Regions from separate parts of the Homo sapiens genome. Here region 1 is linked to region 2. The links come from fine-mapping of genetic effects on gene expression. Tissue or cell type: lung. Region 2 holds a variant in brackets; the other region holds the start of a gene. All regions are shown on one strand. Distances are between the middles of the regions.

The links. PIP is the estimated chance that this variant, and not a neighbour inherited with it, causes the effect.
Region 1: it holds the start of WSCD1, and the variant in region 2 is fine-mapped to the expression of WSCD1 in lung (TOPMed, PIP above 0.99). The same link has a PIP of 0.9 or more in atrial appendage, left ventricle and skeletal muscle.

Annotation. Positions count from the first base shown.
Region 1 is chr17:6,065,091-6,073,413 of GRCh38, reverse strand. WSCD1 (WSC domain containing 1) reads right to left here and starts at 3,035. Exons shown (of 9, transcript NM_015253.2): 1 at 2,762-3,035. RefSeq lists an enhancer at 2,968-3,799.
Region 2 is chr17:6,094,284-6,102,606 of GRCh38, reverse strand. It overlaps WSCD1 (WSC domain containing 1), which reads right to left. Exons shown (of 9, transcript NM_015253.2): 5 at 7,384-7,505. Among named protein-coding and RNA genes, the nearest start is that of WSCD1, 28 kb to the right of the region's middle. RefSeq lists enhancers at 3,479-4,246, 4,880-5,778, 5,779-6,679. The variant G/C (reference allele first, on the strand shown) is at 4,009.

The DNA.
Region 1 (8,323 bases), 29 kb after region 2:
AGGTGATCTGCCCACCTTGGCTTCCAAAACACCAGAATTACAGGTGTGAGCCACCACGCCTGGCCTGGGCTATCTCTTTTATAGAATCTTATTTTGTTTACTTATTCATGTGTTTCTTCCACCTGGTGCTGAAAGCTTAAGGGTCGTCTCAAGCCCATCCCAGAATCTGGAAGGTAAACAGGTGTTGAAACCCCACGGAGTGAGTTGGATACAGGTGGACAAGTGAGTGGAGTGCCCAACCAAAGTCAGACCTGCCCAACTTGATGCTGCCACTGGGCACTCGGGCTATGGGAGAGAGGCCAAGACAGCCTGCTGCACATCCTTGTCCTCAGAATACTCTCGACCCCCTCATGTCAAGGGAGCCACTCTCTAGAAGGGAGCTCACATCTCCAGGGGCTTCCGGCAGCAAAGGAAGGGAAGCGAAGTGAAGGGGAGGGGCCTTAACAGCTACCAGCAGGTGCACTGTATTTCATAGCTGATGAAATGAATCCAGCCCATTCTTCCATCCACTTCTCACATCCACACCAGGAGGCAGGGCATATGCAGAGTTCCTCCCTGACCACATTCTCCAAGTGGCACACTTCCGATAATTTTTCAGGCCGTATGTCAGCACGATTGTCAAAGCCATGATGAGGAGAGATTAAAGGAAGAATGTGAAGGCCAGACCAGGAGGCCCAGGGAGAAGGTGGTGAGCGGAAAGCCACATTCATTCCCTCATTCCCCAGATGAGCAGCCCTGGATGTTAGGGCCCAGCTCTGGCCCTGCTAGTGTATATGATTATCACCTGCATTTTAAGGCCTAAGGCCCTGAAGGTCTAAACACTGAGCTGCCCCAAAGTCCTTGGCCTTGACCTCATTGTACCTCCAGAGAAAGAGTCAGGGAGCTGGTCTCACCAAGGCTGATGGGGGTCTGAGCTGGATGGGAGTACAAGCTTGGAGCTTCTATAATGAGAAACACCACTTCCCTAGAGGCCCTGCTCGGAGGGGTTCCATCAGGGCCTGGAGGCTCTGGATTCAGAGGCTCTGAGTCGCCTGCTCAGGCTGATGCCATAAGGAACCAGCTCTGTGACTCATTCCCCAGTGCTCTGGCCAAACTGATCAGGTTGGAGGCTCAAGCTTCAGCAGCAGACCCACTAGTGGCACTGAATATCCACTTCTGCTCGGTTAGGAAGACAGGAGGAAGAGACAGGAGTCTGGCCTTCTGCCTTATCCCAGCTTCTCTTCACTTCCAACCAGACATGCCACAGGCCACAGGGCAGTACCCCATAGGGCACAATGCCCACTGAAGAGAGGGATCCCCTCACCCCAGAAGAAGGCATTTTTACAGAGGAGCTGTGGAAATGGCCCTGCTGAGGCCTGGAGGATGCAGCCACAGGTGAGAGCCTTCTGGCGGAGAAGATGAGGCAGTCAGGCTCAGCCACCAGCCCAACCACCGCCAAGCCTCCTTCAGATCCCATGCCTGGGAGAGCTCCTGCTCTTCCTCCTAGAAACCCTGAGCTCTGGCAGCCGGTTGAGGCCCCTTCCCGGAGGATCTCCTGAGGGCCAATCTAAGTGTGTGGGGGTGGGGGCATGATTGAGAGAGACAAACCTCATTCTCCCATAGCCCAAGGAAACCTCCCCTAGCTCTCTCCCCAGCACCTGCAGCCACCAGGAGTGGGTGATTGCAAACAGCGCAGGGCAAGCCAGCTTTATATCTCCTGTAACTTTCACTCCCCACCACCCTCACTTTCTGTGCCTGACAACCTAGGCAAATCAGAGGAAAAAAGAAAGGCCCCCACTCCTGATGCCAAAGTGGGATAAACCAAGTGCCTCCATAAACCTAAGCATGCTGTTCCAGCAACAAGAGGGATGCGGGTATCTCATGTTAGAAAAGTACAGCGGAGTCCTGCATCTGTCCATCTTGGGAGCTGCAGGGGCAGGGCCAGTGTGGGGAGCAGCTGGATCCCAGTGCAGGGCTATGAGGCTAGAACTCCTATATGAGCCTTCCCACTGCTCAGCGGAAGGAAGAGCGGTCCCCTTCCCCACCCGCATTCCCGATCAGCAGAGCAGGCATCATCCCAGGCGCACAAATGCTCAGGAAAACCACCAGCGAGGTTACCCGGAGGCAGGGGACCCAGCCAGGTACGTACGCTCCTGAGTAGCCAAGAAAAACGCAATTTAGCAACCTTCAGTCGTGAGTCTCCGTCCACACCTACGAAGACGCAAAGCTCTACACTAGGTAATTTTCTGGACAAAATACATACGTTTTGCTTTTGCCTCTGCCTCTGTTCAAGTTCACCAAGAGACGGAGCAAACCCTCCGCTGACCGGAAGCCTCTCTTGGTAGCGGAACGAGAGGGAGCTGCTTCTGGGTAAACGTCGCCGCCTAGGAGGGAAGCTGTGCGCACCCCACACCCTGCCCTCGCCCCCTCCCCGGGACCAACCGCAGCGCCCTCCCGGGTGACGGACGGGCTCTCAGGACTCCGGAGGGGGACGCGGCTCGTGCGGCGCCTCGCGCACCCCCACCCCATCCCGGCCGCGCCGAGCGCCGCCCCCGCCCCCCCACAACCCCTGCACGCACCCGCTCACTCTCCCCTGCCCCGGCCGAGCCGCCCCGGGCCCCCGGGAAGGTGCCCCCGGCAAGCCCGCCCTGCAGCCGGAGCAGGTGCAGCCCCGCCGCGCTCCCAACCGCGTCTGCACAAACTTGTTTGCCCGCGGCAAGGGGAACACCCTGCTCGCAGCCCGCGCGGGGGTCCGGCTGGAGCGCCGAGAGACAGGACTCACCCCGCGATCGCGGCCGGCTGGGGCGCCCGCACCCGCGCCCATGGCCCGCCTTCCCCGGGCGCCGAGCCCGCAGCCCCCCGCAGTGCCCGGAGCCCAGAAGCCCCGGCGCCCGCACGTCTCCGGCCGCCCGCGGCAAGCGGACCCACGCGCCCGGGCACAGGGCGCCGCCGCCTGGCTCCCCGGGGCTGCTGGCGTCCGGGCTGAACGGCGGGGCGGGCGGGCGGGCGCGGAGCCGGGGCGGGCAGCGGGCGGGCGAGCGGGCGCCGGGCTCTGCACATGCTCACTCGCGCGGCCCGGGGACAGCGGCCGGCCGCCGCCGGGTCCTAGAGGCGCCGGTGCGCACCTCCCGCCGCCCGGGGGAGGGGTCGCGGCTCCGCCGGAGGGGGCCCACGCCCTGCCCCGGCCCGCGAGAACACGCGCGCGGGGCGGGCCACACGCGCCACTGCCGAGCAGAGACGCCGCCACCCACTCTGATACACACACACACACACACACACACCAGTCACCCAGAGCCACAGCCTTTCACCGGGGCCCCACGGGCTCTAACACACGCACCATGACGCTCACACCCAGACACAGACCCACAAACACACGGGGCACTGCCGCGCAGAGGAGAGCACGCCGCCACTCTCCCATGCAGACTCACAGCGACAGCCGCACACTGCCTGACACACACATCCCGAATCACTGCTTCCCAGAGACACCGACACCCACACTCACACACACACTCTCTGGGCTCTGCCCCACTCACCCAGAAGCAGACTGGGCCACTGTGACAGGCACGCACACGTACACACACAGCCACACAGTTTAGAGTGCACTCTAATACACACACACACCACACACGCACGCACACACACACACACACACACACACACCGGATCACCGTCCCATGCAGAGCTAGAGACAGACGGTCACAGCTTCACACACATTCACACTCAGAAACAAGCACCTGCTGGAACACAGACACTCTCACACAATCTGAGACAGACCTACACAGAATTGCAGCCCTACAAATACCCTGACACCAGCTCCCGCGTCTACACACTCGGGGGTCGGCCGCCGGCTTATCATACTGCTCCACACCGCACACAGTGACAAACCCACGCCTTGACATAGTTGCCCACAGAAGCAATGTCACACACTGGTGTCTACTAACAGACACACTCTCAGAGGGGCATACTGGGCATTGACCCACAGGCTCTCTCTCTCTCTCTCTCTCTCACACACACACACACACACACACACACACACACACACACGCACCGAGGTGGAAAGAGGCTGAACAGTCACACAAGTCTATACACAATCCCCCTCTTTAAATAAAGGCTGGATCCAAACCTAAAGATTTTTCCCAGGGAGGAGCCCCACCCTGTTCCCCCAAAGCCGCCAAGTCACAGCATCTGCCCTGCTCTGCCATGTGCACCGGTGGACCCTGTCCTCACCCGGAGCTGGCTGCTAAGATGCTCCCAGAAGCTGAGGACAGCAGAGGCAGCAGGAGCAGGTGGTGGTGCCTCTTACTCCGTCTTCCTAAAAGGGAGTTTCATGCCTCCGACTCCCGCTAGGGGCAGAGCTGCTTGGCCTGGCTCCGAGGAGCTGGCTTGCAACAGGTGCAGGTGGCAGGGAAAGCGTTTGCCTGGGGACCAGTCACAGTCCCTCCTTACGCGGGTCAGTCAGGTGGCGCCCAGAGCGGGAAGAGACTCGCTGCAGTTTGCATAGCTATGTCTGGCCAAGTGCAGAATTAGAACAGAGTCTGCACCATCCGCATGAAGGCAGAATGCTCTGAAGGTCTTGGGGCACCTGGATTTAATATCCTTAAGCCCAGGAAGAGGATACAGTAAGTGAGAGACGAATTCTGTGCTGCCTCAGAGTCCCAACCTTGCAGAAAAGCCCCCTTCACATATATATCCTTTACAGAATGTGAATGTGTGTGTCGTTACGATTTATAACAGCAACCCACTGTGCAGTCTCGCAATGCTGTTTGGTTTGCAAAGCCCTCTCCATGACCAGCTACATAATTTGAAGGGCCTAAAATAAAAATGGAGCCCCCTTTTAAAACACTATCAAGAATTTCGAGAGATAAAAGGAGGATATTAAACCAGTACGGGTCCCTTCTGAGCACAGAATTCAGAGCCTTTCACAGATCTCATACCCATGAAGCCAGCCCTGGCCCTCTCGTACCCATTGTCCCACTTAAAACTGATAAGTCTATAGATGCCTTCATGTGCCCATTTGACAGATGAGGCTTTCAGGTGGGTGATCACAAAAGGCTCACAGCCAGTTGAGCCCAGGGGAATTCAAGCCCAGCTCCTCTGGGAAGCCAGACATTTCCCGGCAGCTGCTATTCAGAAGTGTCCATCTGCAGCAGCAGACACTTGGTACAGAATAATCAAGCAGAAGAGTTGATGTGGCTGCCACCAGGGAAGGAGGTGACTCAAGAAGAAAAAGCAAAAGGCTGCTGGGTATCCATGCCATCTGTGCTCGATGTCACGCTGCACCTGCCCTGCAAAGCACCCCACCAGGGGAACACCATACAGCCCCTGTGTGGGTAGAAGCTAGAGTCAACTACTGACTCTAGGGAGGGAGGTTGAGGAAGGAGGCGCATGAAAGAACCCAGGAAGTAATTGAGAAGGGCTTGGGAGTCAACACGGCCAGGAGTATTTCAGTGTCAGGACAAAGCCCTTCTTTCTAGTGATGGTGACCAGTAAGAAGTGATAGGGAGGACTGATAACAGAGTCACTCCTAATCACAGTCCAACTCCTTGTCCCTCAGCTCTTCTCTCCACATAGTTGGGACTGTTTCATAGTAACTTGTATACCATCCCTGTCCCAAAAGCAATTGGTCCCACAATGCTGCCATCATATGTCCATTTACTGCTGAGAAATGTATCCCCCCACCCCCCAGGAGTCTGGGACTAAGAATCAGACAGGTCTGATGTCACATCAATCCCATCTCTCTGTGTTTCGCTCTTGAGTCATCCGCTCCTCTCTTTGCAGACCTCAACTATTGGATCCTAGGTATTTACATCACCTCCTTACTTCACGTCATCTGATAGCTTATTCTTCCTTCCTTCCAGCCACCCATCTTTTCATGTATTTACTAAGCAAGGCACCCATTGTGTGTTAGATTTTGTGTTGAACACTGGAGAGTCTTTGATAAAAAAGAACCGGTCCCCTGCAGGAGTTTCCAGTGTGAAGAACTGGACGAGAAAACAGACCAAAGTGAAAACATACCACAAAGAGAGAGCTCTGCTGTATCAGTCAGGATGCCTGCAGCCTCAAGTAACAAATAGCAAAGTAAAAGTGGTGTCAAGCAAAGGGTTTATGATCTCAGACAGCAAGACGCCTGGAGGTAGGCAGTTCCAAGGTTGGGTGATTCAGTCACTCAATGATGTCAGAATCTGTGGTGGCCTCTCTGTGCTCCCTGGACCGCCCCCTCATGACTGCAAAATGACAACTGAAGCGCTGTTCGTGACTTCCCCAAATGACAATACCCTAAGGCAAGAAAGAAAGGGACACTTCTTCCCACAAGTTTCTTTTTTCACTGGATAAGGAAACTTTTGCCAGATCCTCCTTCTGGCAAGGCCCATTGGCCAGAAGTGAACCCTGTGAGTACCCCTCAGCCAATACCTGGCCAAGGAGGAATGGGTTTGGCTAATTATAATTCATCCTCTGGGGATAGGCCAGTCATCTCAGAGCGCATCCCCACTTGATCAAAATTGTTTCTATGTTAGTAGATGGCTGCTGGGATGGCAACTAGCTGTGATGATAGATAGATAGATAGATAGATAGAGAGATAGATAGAGAGATAGATAGAGCGAGCATTGGAACCTAAATGACTCGCAACCTCAGTGTGGAGGAATTCAGGGAAGGCTTCCTGGAGGAGGTGACATGTAAGCTGGCTTTTAGAGGAGAAGTGGGCATCATCTGGGTCACCAGGTGCAGGGGCCATTCCAGACAAGGGTGGGGGGCATCCTTTGCAAAGGCAGGGAAGTGTGAAACACACAGGCTGTCACAGAAACTGCCAGTGACTTTGCACTAGCTGGTGCAAGGTCAGAGGTGGTTGGAGAGGAGGCTGAACTGTGACTGGCCACTGAACCCCGACTAGCCACTGAACCCCCATTCAGGCCACTGGCACCAGTGGACAAGGCAGGGCTGTGGACCACGCTTGAGCCACCACTATGATGAGCTCCCTTCACGGTGGTCATCTAGTCATCATCAGCCGTGGAAATGGTCATTCAACCAGTTATGAGTCATCAGCCATCCTACACTTCTATGTCATGTTGACAAAGGCAGCCTGACTAGTCATAGGCATGGGGGTGACAAGCCCACGTGGGGGTGAGGGCCGGGCGTGGGGCTCATATCTCTCTCGCCTTGACCAAGTCACAATCTCTCTGGGCCTCAACACTGTCATCTGCAAATCAGAGAAAATGCCTCCTTTATGGGAGTGCTTGTAAGGACCAAATAAAATGTCTGTTGAGTGTGAAGCAAAACAACATTTGCCATGGAATACGCACATAACACATTTTAGTAAATATTACAAGAAGGGGTTTTCCCCAAAGCTTTGCTAAAATCCAGAAATGCCACATGTGCAATGTTCTACTGAGCCACCAAGCTTGTGATACGTTCTCTTCCTCCACATGCCACCGCCCCAGAGCCTGCCCTGTCATTCTGGCTAAAGCATCCACCTCACTGTCCAGTTTCCAGTCTTCATGGAACATTGCCCTATCATCTCTTTGTGTGTTTGTTGGTTTATGATCTGTTGTCTCCTTCCCAACCCTCACAGCCCCCACTGCTAGAATTTAAGCTCTAATATGGCCCGGGAACTTACTATCACATTCAGAACTTTATCCTTGGTGCCAAGTTGAATTCTTGGTACATAGGCATACTTACTAAATATTTATTAAATAAATAATTGTGTTTTTAAAAACATGATGTGCCTAGCATGACATATTTTTAATAAACCCAAGAAGGCTTCCCACAGTCGTCATGTTTCTTCCCAAGAATTCAAGAGGCTGCTTCCCCTTGCTCTGGTCACAGACTGATCCCTGTATCCAGTCCATTGGATTCTACTGGCCACCAGGGAGACCCAGAGGATGAGTGCGGATGGCTCACTGCACCGCGTGCCCCTGCCAGGGACCGTGGTGGGATGAGGAAGCAGGTGCTCCATCGACACCCAGAGGCACCTCAGTAATCTCCTTTACCCATGCAGCTTGGCTGTATGCTCCACCAAGATGTTGGCCCACAAGGTGACACGGGCTTGACTGTCTCACCTGTGAAGGTTGCCTTTTGCTCCTCTGGACACTGCCTCATCTGAAAAAGCATCATTCAGAGATGGAGAGAAACTTTGGCAACATCTCCAAAGTGGAGATGCAGTTTCTTCTTTCTTTGCTTTGCTTTTTCCCCGCATAGTGCTGAGAAGTATTCGATGCCTGCTCCATGCAGGCAGATCTGAGGCTGGGTTCGGCACTTTGCTGGGCTGTGTATTTACTTGCTTTCTCCTGTGAGTGCTGCAGCGACTTAAATATGCCTCTGTAAAGATGCCAGTGACACAGATGGTAAT
Region 2 (8,323 bases):
ATTCTATTTTTATTTCTGCACTTGGAAAATTTTCAAATTCTCTAAAATAGATATGTGTTAACCCCCCAGAAAAACAAACAATACGTGTTTTTCAAAATATGCAGAGAGTACAGTATCAACAGGTTTACCACAGACTTTTTATAAGCAATTCAAAGCATATCCAATAGCTCTTGGAATGACTACAGCATTTTGTCAAAGAGAAAATTCTTATTCTCAAGGCTCACAAAACCCAGACTCTTACAGACCCAACCATTGGCAAAGACATGAACTTGGGTGCCCCATGGAGACCATAAGGCTACCTTGGATAGACCGAATCTATTGGAATCCAAGTGGATTTTGCAAGAGCAGCTGCCCAGCTGAGAACAAACAGGTTCCATATTAATGCATGCTTTTCCATTTGAAAGGTGGCTAGATGAGCACCACCATTAAATGGCCAAACAAGCAAAAAAACTTAGAAGAAATGTCAATGGGAAAACATCCAGGTGATTAATGCGTAAAGAATTTAGACGCCCAAAAGAGGCTAAAAGAGGGGAAAAAGAAAGCTCAACACCTTTCTTCCTCCTCTCCCTGCGATTCCTTTATCAGTAGAATCACTAACAGCAGCTGGGAGAACAAACCTCACATCACAAGGTATAATCGCCGGTGGAGTGTCTCACATTAGTAACCTATTTGCAGATGGTGTTAGATTTCGCTCATCAGCCTCCTTTCGGAGCACCCCCACAAATGGCCTATCTACTTGAGCACAAATATCAGGCGACAAAACTAATTACCCCAGATCTGAATTGGTAGCAATGCAAATATCGAAGCTGCCCCCTGCTCACTCTTGCCTTGCGTTGAAACAAAGGAGCCGATAGGATCCTGAAGGGGACTGAGAATGAGCAGGTCTCTTTCCATCTCCATACGATCACAGGAAATTAGACAAGATCATTTCACTGGGCTTTAAAAACACATTACATTGGTCAATTCCCTCTTGCTGGCAGAGAGTCAGATCATTAAGATGCAGATATCACCTGGAATGTTCTTTTTCTGTCAAACTACACTCTTGGATCTCCCCAAATCCATTTTCGCGAACTAGCAAAAACAGTAGACATTTTATCTGGGGCCACAAATAAGCCTCAGATGGTGCTCAAAGGTGGGGGCACTACAAGGAACCCCCTCCTCTTTTCCTGTTTCCAAGCCCCACCTCTCACATCTGCTGCTCCCAGCCCCACTGCCCGGCCAGCTCTAATTAAGCCCCTAGCTTCCTACCCCCAGGCTCAGCTCTGCCCCATTTAACATTCTACTGTGAGCATTTTCCATCATCAAAGTCTTTGAAAACATTTTCAATGGTTGTATTATAGTCCACTGTATGGCCGTGGCATAATTTAACCATTCCCACATCATAGGACATTTGAGCTTGTTTTTCGGCCAAATTAGGATGAGATAAAGCTGCCACCGGGACTGCCAGGCAGCCTCCACACCACTGGCCTTTCCAGAGAGGACGTGCTTGGCACTTCAGAGCAGGCAAATACGGCCAGACATCCCCAGATTCACCTCTCTCGCCACCCTCAACATTCAGGAGGGAAGAGAGGATACCATTCCCTGCAAAGAGTTCTCTGGCCTCTGCAGGTCTGGGTCAGATCAACTTCCAAACAATTTCACATCCATCAGACCTCAATACTAGAGGGAGAATTTGCTTCTCCATCCTCACAATGGTTGGAAGAGACCATTGCTCCCCAGGATTCAGCCCCACGGGGATATGGGCCATGACTGGGCATGGCTGCCTGGCATCTTCAGGTGGCTCTCCAGGGCTGTGGTTCTCAACCAGGGGTGATTTTACCCTCCAGAGGACATACGGCAATGTGTGGGGACTGTGTGTCACAACTGAGGGAATATGGGCTGTTGGCATCTAGTGGGTAGAGGCTAGGGATGCTGCTAGATATCCTACAATGCACAGACAGATCCCAACATGAGTAATATCCAACCCCAAATGCCAACAGATCCAAGGCTGTGAACCCCTGCTCTAGAGTGAAGTCAGAATTCCAGCAAAACCCCTGCCAGGCATCTGCAGAGCTCAGAGCTGAGGGGCTAACAGTACAGACGGTTTGAGTTCAAGTTACACCCACATCCACGGGCGAGACAAGCGAGAATGGATGGACAATCTGGGAGCCAAAGGCTCGCTCCGTTGGGCAGATGGCGGTTTGACTTAAAGGCATGACATCCAGGGCACTGTTCTTGCCCTACCTGAAATCCCTAACTCCAGAACCAGGTCACAGGTCGACTTCTGTGGCAGCTTTGCCAAGGCATCTCTGAGGGTACCCCTGAGAAATGCTGTATCCCAGAAGGATCCAAGGAGAACTTCCCTCCCACATTGGACAGGTCAGCTGCCCCGCTCACCCACAAACCCATCCATGCCTCATCCTCCTCCCTGGGGGTTCCCACTCCTTCTTTCATGCCCCCACATCCTCTCTTGTGGATTCCAACCCTGTGGTGTCTCTTAGACCTACTCCCTTCTTTATTAGCTCTCATCCTCTCCGTGCTCCAGAACATCCTACCTGCAGCTATAAAGTGCCACACAAGCCATACCAGCCCCTCCCACCCACTGAAAAAAGTCTCAACCTTGAGGCAGGCATTCAAGCTATATGGCTCTGATGACTGGAGGGACACCAGGGTTCTTGGTCTCGTGCCGGTTTAGACATGGACACATGTGGGGTGATTTTAAGGAGTGAAAAGTTTAACAGGCAAGAAAGAAGGAAGGAAGAAGAAAACAGCTCCCCGTACAGAGACAGAGGGAGGGGGGATTTGAACAAAGAGAAAACCCCGTGTGCAGCGGAAAAGTGGCTGCTTATATTGGGATGCTGGAGGAAGCGGTGTCTGCGTTCCATAAGGCCCAGGGGATTGGTTTGACCAGGTGTGTCATTTACGTAGCCCTTGAAAAACCTGGCCCTCCCACCTTAGTCCTTTAATATGCAAATGCAGGTCATCATGATGTTCTGAACACATGGTGTTATCTGGAGGTGGCCATGACACTCGGTACACCTGGTAACAAGGAAAAGACAGTGGGAATCACCATATTGAGTGAACCCAGTTGCTCTCTTTTTTTTTTTGTTTTTGAGACAGAGTCTTGCTCTGTCGCCCAGGCTGGAGCGCGGTGGTGTGATCTCGGCTCACTGCAACCTCTGCCTCCTGGGTTCAAGCGATTCTCCTCCCTCAGTCTCCTGAGTAGCTAGGCCTACAGGCAGGCGCCACCACACCTGGCTAATTTTTGTATTTTTAGTAGAGACAGTGTTTCACCATGTTGGCCAGGATGGTCACAATCTCTTGAACTCATGATCCGCCCACCTCAGCCTCCCAAAGTGCAGGGATTACAGGCATGAGCCACCGTGCCTGGCCCTTTAAGCCGCCTTTTCTGTTAGAAAAGAGATGGTTTGGGGGTTGTTTCTTATTACAGGAAAATTTCCACCCAGAACCTTACTTTCTGCCTAAAATAACTTCTTAATAACTCTTGTATCACAAAGCCCTCTGCAATTTGTACCCCCTGACCTTTCACAGCCCCCCAAGTAACCCTGCACGCTGGGCCACCTGGGCTGCTTTCCTGCCACCTGGTTCCTGCTCAGCAGTTGCCTCTTCTTGGAACACACTCCTTAATCCCCTCAGCCACCTGCCAACACTGCCCCACATCCTCCAGTTCCAACCCTTCCCAAAAGTTGCAACCATCTTCCTTTCTCAGCCTCCTTCCAAGCCTTCTTCACCTTCTTCAGGCACTGCCCTTACTCTGCCACCAGTGAGAGTCACCTGCCCCTGGCTGTGCCCACCGTCTCAGCATTTGCGTTTTGCCAAGTCCCACTAAATATGCGCTGCCAATACCCACTTTAAACTTTAAAGCTGGAAATGATGACTCTGTTCCTCACAGCTGCAAATGTTGCAGCCCTAAACAATGGAACTCAGGAAACACCACCCTCCCAGTCCCATCTGACCACGCAGAGGCAGCCCGGATAAGGATCAGGTGTCAGCACTGGCTCCAGTGTT[G/C]TGAGTGCTGAGGACAGAGGCTGTTTCTGAGAAACCTGGATGCCCTTTCCATGTAGTTCTGACCCAAACAATTCACGACTGCTCCGGCCATAGCAGAGAAGGGAACTTGTCCTTGAAATGCGTTGTGAGGGGAGATGGACAAGGTGCTAATGTGTGATAGCACAAGACACCAAGAGCCTGCGTGTATCTTCTGGCACATGCTCCAGTGTGAAACTGCAGCAATCTGGATTTATGCCAGTAAATATGAAGGAAGGCTGAAAATACAAGTTGAAGAGTTATAAGCCTTTAAATTCTTGTCTGTAATCACAAATACAAACTCTCTGGACCAGCCGGGCACAGTGGCTCATGCTTGTAATCCCAGCACTTTGGGAGGCCAAGGAGGGCAGATTGCTTGAGCCCAGGAGTTCAAGACCAGTCTGGGCAACTTGGTGAGACCCCCCCCACCCCGCCCCCCTGTCTCTGCAAAAAATACACAAAAAAATTAGCTGGGCATGGTAGTGTGTGCCTGTAGTCACAGCTACTCAGGAGGCCAAGGTGGGAGGATCACTTGAGCCCAGGAGCCAGAGGCTACAGTGAGCTATGATCACACCACTGCACTCCAACCTGGGCATCAGAGCGGAACACTGTCTCAAAAAAAAAAAAAAAAGAAAGAACTCTCTGGGCCCTAATGAGGTACACAAAGGGAGGACCCCCAGAAAACTGAGGCATCTGCCTAAAATGCTGCTTTGAGCCCCCCAACACACACAAAATAAGGGTTACGAGGGTGCCTTGCCTCCCCCTCACACATCACTGATCGGGGTATAAAATGAATACAATCCTCGCCAAGGACAACCTGACAAAGTTTACCAAAATGATAAAGACACTCAGTCTTTGACCCAGCATCTCCAAGGAATATTTTTCTTACAGATTCACTCACACAAAGTGATCTACGTACATACACAGGTAGTCACTGCCGCATCGTTTGTGAAGGCTGGAAATAGGCGAAATGCTAAACTGGTTAAATAAATTATAGGACCTCCGTGCAATGGTAAAAAAGAATGAGAAAGCACTTTGTGTCGCGACGTGAGACAATCTCCGAGACAGGCTGTCCGGTGAAGAGTTCAGTGCAGAAGGGCGGGTGCAGCTCCTGCCCGGCTGCGGGGCTTGTTAGAGAATGGGCAAGGATGCAGTTGCTTGAATATTCAGTCTCTCTGGAAGTAGACATGAGAAGCCAGGACAATCCAGGCAAGGAAATGCATGGAGTGAGAGGAAGGCTTCCCTGCTATGCCCTTTGGCGTCTTCATTATGCTCCAAGTAAGCATGTTCCTATTTAAAACTAGTCCGAAACACTAATGGCTCATGGCCACAATGGCCACCCCTTTCTTTCCCTTCTCTTCCTCCTCATCTTCTCCGTCTCTTCCCCCTTCCATAACGCCGAATGGCAGCAGTGTGTAAAACCACGGGCTGTGTGTGGCGTCAGGAGCAAGGGCTGCAAAGCCGGCCGCTCTGTGCCAGTGTGTGGCTGTGTGTGGCATCAGGAGCAGGAGCTGCAAAGCCGGCCACTCTGTGCCTGTGTTTGAGGGCTCTCAGCTCTGCACACCTGCCCAGCCTCTCGCAGCAAGCAGGCATCTGAGTATCCCCCATTGGGAGCTACTGGGAGGATTAAAGCAGATAACCCCCCGCAGGAAGGCTCCTAGTGCCATGCCCAGCACACAGCAGGACTATCCAAGCTGGTTGCTCAAGGCAGGCCTGCCTCCAGCCTGGTCTGGACCACAGAGTTCCTTTGATTCCAACCAGAGGGCCTCTCAAGGGAACTGCTCTGAGCTGCAGGTGTGAGGGAAGCCCTAGGAGGGTGGCTCATTCTCCTGAGAGCACCAGCAGGGCCGGCAGCTGAGCGCGCATCCTTGCTGCCTCTACCCATCGCTCTGCTCCCATGAGGAGGAGAAGGGATGAGGAGGTCCCCAGGCCAGATGTCCGCAAATCAACAAACTGCCTTTTTGGCTCATTTAATTGTGTCGTGGGTGCCCTGATGCCCAAGACATCCTTGGCTGTGGCTTCGGAAATGCTGGTGACGCAGGAGAGCCACTTCAAAGGATGCACTTGGACAAGAAGAAAGCACATATGAAAGCCCCCTCCAGCCCCCTCCAAGGGAGGTGTCCAGCCCCCTTGTTCTCCAGCCCCCTCCAAGGGAGGTGTCCCCAGAGTGCGGAGGAACACATGAAGCAGGGAGAGCGGGAGTGGGGGGGTGCAGCAGAGGATGGCTGTGCTGCTCCTGCAGATCCGATCACATCTGCTGTCATTGAAGTCCACCCCTGCACCCTTCAACCCACAGCAGACTATGGAGCTACCTGAGTTCAAACCCTGACCCCACCACTTACTGGCTGTGTGACCTCAGGCACACGGCTCAAACCCTCTGCCTCAGTTTCCTCACCTGGAAAATGCAGATAATCACAGCACCTAGCTGTAGGGTTGTTAGGAGGATTAAATGAGTTAACCCATAAAGCGCTTGGAACAGTACCTGGCATGGAATGAGCGATCAACGAATGGCAGCTTCTGTTGATTGTCATAATCGTCATCATCATCCTGGCCAAGGCCATCCTCTCACCTTAGCCCTGTTCTATTACATTGCCAAGTATCAAAGCCACATTGAGGGTACAGCAATCCCAGCGCATGTGAAACAGCCCCAGCCCCAAGCCTACTGCCACCAAGGGCCATTTCTAGAGCCACAGCATCCACCCCAATCTGGAGTCTGCCTGACTCCAGCCCGAGATCTCAATGTTCTTTGGACACAGTCTGCTGGGTCTCCCCCAGCCTTGCTTCACACACTCCAGGCCCTGCTTTTTGCAAGCCACCTCTGGCCTTGACCAACTTTCCCCACCCCAGAGCTACCATGCAATGCGGGGTCAGTGGCCTTTGGTGCCTAGCCCTGCCCCTCCATGGGGTCACGCTCTACTCCTCAGCCCAGGCTAAACCAAAGATGCAAGTGTGGCTCCAGCCCCTGTCATCAGATTCACGGCCCAACACCGTCAGCACCAATAACAGAAAATCCATCAGCTATCCCCAAGTCCCGAGCCAGCATCTTCTGGCTTCCAAACCAAGTCAATTTAACATCTGACACTTGTGGCAAGAGTTCGCATCCAGAAAGGCACTCTCCTTTCGGCTTTACAAGCCTTGCTGACAATTCCCCACCCAGCCTCACATGGTGGACAGAGGCGAAGGGCTCCCTGCCGGCTCCCTCTGTGGTACCTGGTGCCTGCCTCCCATCCATGCCCCCTTCCTCTGCTCCCATCTGGACTGCCAGAGGGGACACCCGCAGCCCAGCACATGTGCCCCCCTCTCTCAGGACCACCACACACACTTAAAGGAAAGGGTTGTGAAATGATCACTTGGTCTTACTTTCTGGGAACAAAAGCCCGAGCAAGTCCCCACGGTCACATTGGCCTGTATCAGGGAGCTGGGGAAGGCATGTGTGATGTTCTCTGGCAGTCGGAAGCATCCGCGGTAGGTGGCGGTCCGCCCTGGGGGAAAAGAGAGGGGTTTCTGGTAAGAGATGGTGTCCAGTTGTTGGTGCCTGTCACCAGGGAAAATGCTGGCTTTAGGTCCTGAGACAGGTATAAATAAACTTACGAGGCGAGTTCAAATCAGGGAGGGAAAACGGCCCTGCATGGGACATAGTCATGCTGAGCTTCTGAGAGAAACCAGGCATCAGCACCTTGACCGTCCAGGGTCATCTACAAGGGACCACTTGGCTGAAACTGCAGCGCTCAGCTCTTGCTTCTGCCAGTTCTCCATAAGTCATTCCTTCCTCCCTTCCTCCCTCCCTTCCTCCCTTCCTTCCTTCCTTCTCTTGCTTCTGCCAGTTCTCCATTCCCTCCCTCCCTCCTTCCCTCCCTCCCTTTCTTCCTTCCTTCCCTCTCCCTTCCTTCCTTCCTTCCTTCCCTCTCTTGCTTCTGCCAGTTCTCCATAATGCCAGCCTTCCTGCCGGCCTGCCTACCTTCCTTCCTTCCTTCTCCTTCCTTCCTTCCTTCCTCCCTTCCTTCTCCTTCCTTTTCCTTCCTTCCTTCCTTCTTTCTTCCTTCCTTCAACAAATTTGGATGGTGCTTTTACTAGGTGCCAGATTCCTCCCATGGTAGGTGACCTGAGAGGCTGATATTGTGAAAAATTCAATGTCCTACCGGAAGATGCATTAAAAGAAAAGCAGACATGGAAATCTGAAACCCAGCCATGTTTGTTCTTGCTGTGCCGTTGGAGTCATACCACTGCTTTGCCTCTTTGCAAGGTTTGCCTCTCTCTGATCTTGAACTCCCACTCAATTTCTAGGAACTCCTCAAGCCCA